Linked DNA regions of Homo sapiens: region 2 is linked to region 1. Evidence: fine-mapped expression QTL. A gene starts in region 1. The other region holds a variant in brackets. All regions are shown on one strand. Distances are between the middles of the regions. Region 1 holds the start of ABCB1 (ATP binding cassette subfamily B member 1). Region 2 overlaps ABCB1 (ATP binding cassette subfamily B member 1).

Evidence for each region. PIP is the estimated chance that this variant, and not a neighbour inherited with it, causes the effect.
Region 2: its variant is the best candidate, but not a certain one, in a credible set for the expression of ABCB1 in testis (GTEx, PIP 0.86).

The regions. Positions count from the first base shown.
Region 1 is chr7:87,598,660-87,603,057 of GRCh38, forward strand. ABCB1 (ATP binding cassette subfamily B member 1) reads right to left here and starts at 2,225. Exons shown (of 28, transcript NM_001348946.2): 1 at 2,096-2,225; 2 at 1,458-1,531. The coding sequence starts at 1,525. RefSeq lists enhancers at 328-1,527, 737-1,126.
Region 2 is chr7:87,506,762-87,511,159 of GRCh38, forward strand. ABCB1 (ATP binding cassette subfamily B member 1) reads right to left here. Exons shown (of 28, transcript NM_001348946.2): 26 at 2,514-2,720. Among named protein-coding and RNA genes, the nearest start is that of ABCB4, 33 kb to the left of the region's middle. The variant A/G (reference allele first, on the strand shown) is at 2,568.

The DNA of each region.
Region 1 (4,398 bases):
CTTTCTTTCAGTTTCCCTTCTCTCAGAATATTAAGCATTCAGCAGTAGCATTCAGTATCTCAAAATCAGTTACAGTTACGATGTTCTTTGATGCTCAAATTGTCCCAGAGTTGGCCATTGGAAGCATCTTCCAGACAGCTTCAGTGTGCTTTCGACTACTCCATTAAACTCCACTTCCTTATTTTCAGGTACCACAAGATACTCCAGGCTCACTTTCTATTTTTCCTGTCCCAGACCTGGCTGAAATTAGCTACTGAGGGGTTCATTTCTTTTAGGGAGGAATGGTATTTAGAAACCCAGATCTGGTACTAACAGTGCTCATTGTTACTGTCCCTTTCAGTGGACTGAAAATGAACTATTAAAAGATTATGAATTCATATTGAAATTTCTAATTCAAACTTAACATTATTTTTAAAAATGTATTTGATTTCCACATTTGTATTTTTTCTCTTACACTGAAAAGCTTGGTTTCTTATAATATTAATGTGTTTACTAATTTATCTTATAATTTACATTACAGTTTCTAATATTATTAAACTTACTAGTCTATTTTACAATTTACTACTAACAATGAATCTATTTAGTGAAGTTTTAAATATTCTATAAAGGCAGAGCACCATGATCAAAATTTACTTTAAATAATTATTTTCCCTATATGATTACATTACCAATATTATATACAGATATTTATTGCCAGTTAACAACCTAAATGTACTTTTGACCTTCTGTCTCATCAGCCAGGCCACAAACGCGATGTTTACATAGCCATTTACCGGAAGCAAGAGCCTGGACCACAGAGCAGATCACCAGCAGCATATGGCTCACGTGTGGGCGACCAACACCACTTGAAAAGCAGAAGTTCATAAGACAGAAACACATATGAGCATCCGCCTGTCTGGGGCAGGAAAGCTGAGAAAGAGGCACACCAAGACTAAGGGAAAGAGGCCGGGAAGGGTAAAAAGGTGAAATGAAAAGAGGTTGGTGAATGACTAAGAACGGTTGGATAGGACAAATAAGTTCCAATGTTCGATAGCAGACGAGGGTGACTACAGTTAGCAATATATTGTATATTTCAAAGTAGCTAGAAGACTTAAAATGTTATCAACACATAGAAATGAAATATACCTAAGGTGATGTATCCTTCAAATACCCGGACTTGATCATTACACATTCCGGGCATGTAAAAAACGCTTCCATGTACCCCATTTCATAAATATGTAAAATATTATGTATCATTAAAAGAAAGAACAAAAAAGACAGGGAAAATGCATATGCTGTGCTCCACTCAGCCAACAAACTTCTGCTCTAAGCAGGGATATTGATTCCAAAGGCTAGCTTGCGTTTCTTAAAAATAATTAAAAACAACAACATGTCATTTATTTCAGAGCTGGAGGCTAGAAATAAATTACTCAAATCTCGCAACTATGTAAACTATGAAAATGAAACAAGCTAGTTACCTTTTATTGTTCAGTTTAAAAAAGTTCTTCTTCTTTGCTCCTCCATTGCGGTCCCCTTCAAGATCCATTCCGACCTGAAGAGAAACCGCAGCTCATTAGCCAAATGCATGAGCCTCAGGCGCGCTGGAGGTGAGACTAACCTCTAGTCCCCCGTCGAAGCCAGAGAGCAGTAAGAGGGAGCGCCCGCCGTTGATGCCCCAGCTGCTCTGGCCGCGATGGGCACTGCAGGGGCTTTCCTGTGCGCGGGGTCTCCAGCATCTCCACGAAGGCAGAGTTGGGGGTCTGGCAGCGCGTTCTGGACTTTGCCCGCCGCCAGTGCGATTCTCCCTCCCGGTTCCAGTCGCCGCGGACGATGCTTCCTCCCACCCACCGCCCGCGGGCTCAGAGAGCAGGTCCCCGCACCGCGCGGGCTGTGCGCGCTCCGGGCAACATGGTCCAGTGCCACTACGGTTTGGGCGCTGCTCCAGGAGCTCCTGAGTCTAGATCTAACCCCACTTGGTCCCCATGGACTTGCCAGAGGACTTCACACTATCCACGCCTCAAGAAGCCCTTCTCCCGTGAAGACCAAGTTCAGGAAATCTGAAAGCCTGACACTTGGGAACTGTCCCATAGTAGCTCCCAGCTTTGCGTGCCCCTACCTCGCGCTCCTTGGAACGGCCACCAAGACGTGAAATTTTGGAAGAAGATACTCCGACTTTAGTGGAAAGACCTAAAGGAAACGAACAGCGGCCTCTGCTTCTTTGAGCTTGGAAGAGCCGCTACTCGAATGAGCTCAGGCTTCCTGTGGCAAAGAGAGCGAAGCGGCTGTGCTCAGCCCACGCCCCGGCGCTGTTCCTGCCCAGCCAATCAGCCTCACCACAGATGACTGCTCCCGGCCCGGATTGACTGAATGCTGATTCCTCGAGAAACTGCGAAACAGGTTGAATTTCCAGGAGGAATGTTCTGGCTTCCGTTGCACCTCTCTAGAAAGGGCAAGTAGAGAAACGCGCATCAGCTGAATCATTGGGGACATTTCAACTTATGTAGACACGTCTTTCAAAGTTCACATAAGTCTTCATATCCATATAACTACAGGACGTAGTTAAGGGAAATTTTCTCGGGATTCGCATTTAATACAGTTAATACAAAAACTCCGACCTCTCCAATTCTGTATCACCTTTCTGCTTCCTAACACCTTTGAAAAGGCTAGGAGAAATTTTTCTGCAGTGGTCTTTCTTCAGCATGCTTGACAGTTTCTGAGTTACATCTGTTCATCCTTTATTTGATGATAAATGGAATGAAAGAAAAAGGAAGTTTTAAAAAATATATAGAGACAGGTATTTCAAGGTACAAATGCTATTTCAAAGTGTGTAATATTTTAAAACTTCAGACGTCAGATCAATGCCCGTGTTTTTCCAGGGCATTTTAAATTCTTACATTTTAATTCAAATTAGTAAAATAAACATAGCATGTTTTAGCATATTACATTAGTTGTAATTTCCTTCCATATTTACTGCCAACATTTAATATTTTTTCCTGTCCACTATTTACTTCAAACTGAGGAAAAGTACGTGCAATCTGCACAATTCAAAATTGTAAAGCAATGCTAACTCACATCAGAGCTTTTCTTACTTCTTATGAACATAGAGGAAATAGGTTTGTTGTATCCTCTAGTCTACATTCTATGACTTTCACATATTACCTATCAGTTTATTGCATAAGTTTAGAAGAAGAAAATCACTTTGTTTTTTACTGCATAGTCTGAGGATGTTTCCACTTTCTTTAAATAACTCATACTTCAAAGCCATAATTTTTTTCTATTCTTGACTACAAATTTTCCTTATCTTGATATATTTTGTTCTTGGCCTTACAATACAATGAAGTTTTCTTTTGTTTTTCTTTCTTTTTTCTTTTTTGAGACGGAGTCTTGCTTTGTCGCCCAGGCTGGAGTGCAGTGGCAGGATCTCGGCTCACTGCAAGCTCCGCCTCCCGGGTTCACACCATTCTCCTGCCTCAGCCTCCCAGGTAGCTGGGACTACAGGCTCCCGCCACCACGCCCGGCTAATTTTTTGTATTTTTCGTAGAGACTGGGTTTCACTGTGTTAGCCAGGATGGTCTTGATCTCCTGACCTCGTGATCCGCCCGCCTCGGCCTCCCAAAGTGCAGGGATTACAGGCGTGAGCTACAGCTCGGCCTCTTTTTTTTTTTTTTTTTTTTTTTTTCACAAATTGTTAATTAGGCTTCTAACAGGCCACTATTTTTTCCACATGTTCTAATTGCATATGCAAGTGTACAGCATTGTTCACTGTTTAAAGGCTTAACAACAACCCTGTGGTCCATCTGGGGTAAATGTAAAAGCTTTCATCTTCATTACATGCGTTTTTAATCTTATTTGTGCCTATGATCTCTGTTTTCACTTTTGTTTTGCTTTGTTGCTTTATCTCACCTTTCATTTATGTAATCTTGTTGTATTTTATGTATCCTTTTGAATGGCCTTAAACCCTCCCTAAACAGTGCAGGATATAAATACAGTGCTATACTGTTATGTTGATTATACTATTTCTACAATCTTGAGCATCAGGTAAAGATCTCTATCAAAGATATAAGTAAGTTAAAGATCAGAATAACACAGATTTTAAAAATAAGATTCTACCATTCTATTATATTGTATTCCATTTCTTTGCTCCACTGACATGAAAGTGTGAATATAAAACATGATGGACCTAAAACAAACTAGCTCTTGCTACTTTCAACAGTCCTTGGTTTCTTGAAAGACACCAGTCTTGCATTTGTGCCACCACCACTTCTGTCAAGCTGAACTTGGCTGTTCTCCTTAAGCTTCCTTAATTTCTGATGAAACCTACCTGGTCCCCTTGCAAGTTGACACTCATATACCTTCATTCAAGCGGTGATATTTCCATTTGAAGTGACTGCCACAATCTGCACCTTCTTGTCCTCCGCT
Region 2 (4,398 bases), 92 kb before region 1:
ACAATACTATCTTATTATTTCCAGGCTGAAATTTTAGTACAGGGTTGCCTATTTTTATTTGCTATATCTGGCAACCCTAGTTTTGTGGCACTCAGCCCTGGGTTTCCCCCTGTAAATAGAGGGAGAAGACGCCAGATGAGGTTTTGGCAGATGCTTGGGACTGGCTCTACCCCAGAGCTGTGGCTGTCTCAGAAGGCAGGAGCACTGAAGTGTATCTCATGTGAGTGGAGGGTTTACTAGTTGCACTCTTGATATAGTACTGATCCTGTTGAGGCAGATAAAGGCAGTGCGGCAGTCTTACAAGGAGGTAGCTAAACCAGCCACCTACAGGGTGAGGTAAATCCTAGTATTAATCACTTAGGAGAAGTGGATCCTTAGGTAATAGGACTTAGGGGTTTTACCTTTTCTCTCCTGGTCTAGACACTGAGGAAGAGAATTATGGTGTCTACAGGTGTGTTCTGTGTGACAGATTAGAGACCAGGATTTGTCCTGTGGTAGACAAATGCCAGAGAGGCAAAGTATATTTAAAAAGATAGATAATAGTTACTCTCTGTGTTTGTGTTTTATTAACCCCTAGCCCAGTGGTTCCCCAATTTGAGCCTGCAACAGTATTACCTGGGCTCTTAAAACGTGGATTGCTGGATCTGCAGTCCTAACAGGTTCCCAGGTGATGCTGATCCGTGTCTATACTTGAGAACCACTATCCTCTCATCAGTAAAGGGGATTGGAGCTTTCTGTTTTAAATGTTTGAGCCTGGAGAAGGGTCAATTATCTAGTTGGGCTAGACTGTGAAAGGAGAGTGGGAGACAAGGCCACCTCCCTGGGACTTAATGAGATTGGTGTCAGCAGTTATCCAAAGAAGAGCCTATGGAAGAAGGGAATCTTGGGAAAGAGAGCCACCTGGTGTTGCTTGCCTGCCTCGTGAGGAAACTGTCTTCCCCGCCGGGTTGAGGCTCCTGAGCTTTGTTTTAGGGGGCACTTCCTTAGAATAAAGAGCATAACTGGTGATAATGGGTGAGGTAGATTACCTAGGTTGAGAAGCACTTCAAAATATAGGACCTAACTTTTGCAGCAACATGGATGCAGCTGGAGGCCATTATCCCAAGCAAAGTAATGCAGGAACAGAAAGCCAAATACTGCATGTTCTCACTTATAAGTGGCAGCTAAACATCAGGTACTCATAGATGAAAAGTGGCAACAATAGAAACTGAGGACTATTAGTGTAGGGAGGGAAGGGGGGTAAGTGTTGAAAAACTACCTATTGGGTTCTGTGCTCAGTACCTAGGTGACAGGATCATTTGTACCCTGAAACCTCAGCATCATGCAATATACCCAGGTATAATAAACCTGTACATGTACCCCCTAAGTCTAAAATAAAGGTTGGAAAAAATCTAATTTTGGACTTTTAATACAGGTTGAGCATCCATAATCCAAAAAATTCAAAATCTGAAATTCTGAAACTTTTTGAGCACCAACATGATGCCACAAGTGGAAAATTTCACACATGATCTCATGTGACAGGTCACAGTCAAAACACAGTCAAAACTTTGTTTCATGCTCAAAGTTATTAAAAATTTGTATAAAATTGCCTTCTGGCTATGTGTATAAGGTATACATGAAATATAAGTGAATTATGTATATGCAAATATTCCAAAATCCAAAACACTTCTGGTCCCAAGTATTTTGGACAAGGAATAGTCAACTTGTATTCCAAAACAAAACAAAACACAAAAACTAATACACAGGACCTAAGAGGGCTTGAGAGAGGATGAGAGGTTCCATTTATCCAACTTCCTAGGAGGAATTCAGAGGACACCCATAGGACCACAGCCCAGGGAGCCCTAGAAAAGATTTCAACCATTCACTGTAAACAAAGTTTGGGGCCCATGAAATGTATGACGATGAGAGATTACATGATACCATGGTCACTTTAATGGTTCAACCCTTATTCAGAGAGAGCACTCTTTCTGGCATGGGTTCAGCCCTCTGGACTGGACTGACTCCACAGTGAGTTTTGAGGCTTGGGAGAGAGCTGCAAGGAGGAAGAAGGAAGAGAAATAGGGGAGAGACATGGGGAGAGACAGTCATGCCTACTTCCTCAGCAGGCCAGAAGCAGCATGTGCAGGTGGGGACCCAGACTCTGTACTTGGACTTAAAGTGAAAGGCTTTCCAGATATTGTACTTACCCCTAAGGCTGACAAAGGTGGAGCCTCAAGCCTATAGCTTTGGATCAAGACAATTGTTCCAGTTCTCCTATCCCAGAAATGTTCCTCTCTCCTAAACCTGAAGTGGTCGAACACTTTCATCCCTTCCTCACAAGGAGGGTCAGGTGATCAGGTAAAGGTAACAACTAACCCAAACAGGAAGTGTGGCCAGATGCTTGTATACAGGTAAGGGTGTGATTTGGTTGCTAATTTCTCTTCACTTCTGGGAGACCAGCCCCTTATAAATCAAACTATAGGCCAGAGAGGCTGCCACATGCTCCCAGGCTGTTTATTTGAAGAGAGACTTACATTAGGCAGTGACTCGATGAAGGCATGTATGTTGGCCTCCTTTGCTGCCCTCAC[A/G]ATCTCTTCCTGTGACACCACCCGGCTGTTGTCTCCATAGGCAATGTTCTCAGCAATGCTGCAGTCAAACAGGATGGGCTCCTGGGACACGATGCCCAGGTGTGCTCGGAGCCACTGAACATTCAGTCGCTTTATTTCTTTGCCATCAAGCAGCTGAAAACAAGAGTTCACAGATCAACTTCAGGACCAGCACACTTTGAATGTAGCACAATTAACATCATTATTTCTTACACTGAAACTGCCAAGTTACTGTGAGATTAAGGAAAAGTTTGTGTGATTAAAATTTGGATAGTGAAGGTTAACCCAACAAGGTCATAATTGTATGCCTTGAGGAACTGTCATGTTTCCTGTGTTTCAACCATGGTTTCTGATGTATGCATGTGGTAGGCAGAATAATGTTCCCTCTCCCACAAGACATCTGTGTCCTAATCCCTGGATCCTGTGAATGTGTTATGTTACATGGCAAAAAGAAACTAAAGTAGTAGATGTAAGGTTGCTAATCAGCTGACTGTAAAATAAGATTATCCTGAATTATCTTGGTGAAACTAATGTAATCATAAGGGCTCTTAACTGAAGAAGAAGGAGGGAGAAGAGTATCAGCAAATGCAGTGTGAGAAAGACTCAACCAGCCACTGCTGGTTTTGAAAATGGAGGAAGGGGCCACAAGCAAGAAAACAGATCATCCTTTGGAGCCTCTAGAAGGAACACAGCCCTCCTGACACTTGATATGAGCCCACTGAGACCTATTTTAGACTTCTGACCTCCAGAAGTGTAAAGTCATAAATTGGTGTTGTTTTAAGCCACTGAATTTGTGGCAAGTGGTTATAGCAGCCACACTAATACAACGCCTAATACTTCTGAGATGTATCCTGACAGCCTTATTCTTAAATCTCCATTTTTCAGAGAAACAGTGCCCAGGATTAGCATGGAAATAAATAACAACTATGACCACATAATAGCTTTGCAGGTCAGGAACTACAGGGGATGGATAGGTGAACAGGGGTAGGAAAGGGTGAATGGAGATCCTCAATACTGAGCCAGATGAGTAGGAACAGAGGGCTGCCCTTTCTCTATAATCTGGCTCCCTGGATTATCCTGCAGAAGACTGGGGAGGGCACCTTACAGCCTTGCTGATAACAAGCCCTACTCTGATGCAAATATGTCTATCAGATAGGTCTGCTTTGCAAGATAATTTTCTGGCATTCAAGTGAGAGAGCTGTTCATCCCTTCTGAAGAAGGCACCAGTGACTCAGCTTTGAGCTTTTCTAATAGTAGTGACTAGTGCGTGCTGAGCCATATACTCTCTGTATCCCATGTGCCTGGCTGGGTGGCTCAAGGGGACAGCTGCCTAGCAGTAGAGTACAATCTTTGCTACAGGAACATGGCTTCTGCTTGTGACACTGGCAGGTGCAGGGATGGAAGCTCTCCCATAACCTTATTAGTTCCAAGCTGAGTTGCCATGGAGACTATTCCACACATGTATGCTCCAGGCTTCCTTACAATGTTAATAAATGAAGGTGGAAAGTAGAGGGTGGAGAGAGACAGTGAAAGCCAAACAAGGATGTGGCTAAGCAGCAGATCTTGTTAGATAAAACACTGTACTTGAGAAGTGGAAATTTAAGGAAAGGAGGAGTTTGGTTTTTGCTTTTGTTTTTGTTGTAATTTTCCAGGTTTATACCCCTGGGAGGAAAACAGACACTGCCTAACTAATATAATCACAGGCAAATCTGAATGATCTCAGCAAGTTATAATGAGTTTCTTCATTACACTGAATACACTCTTGGGCCTCCTCGTCCCCGCATAATACCCTAGAATTGCAAACTATTTAAAA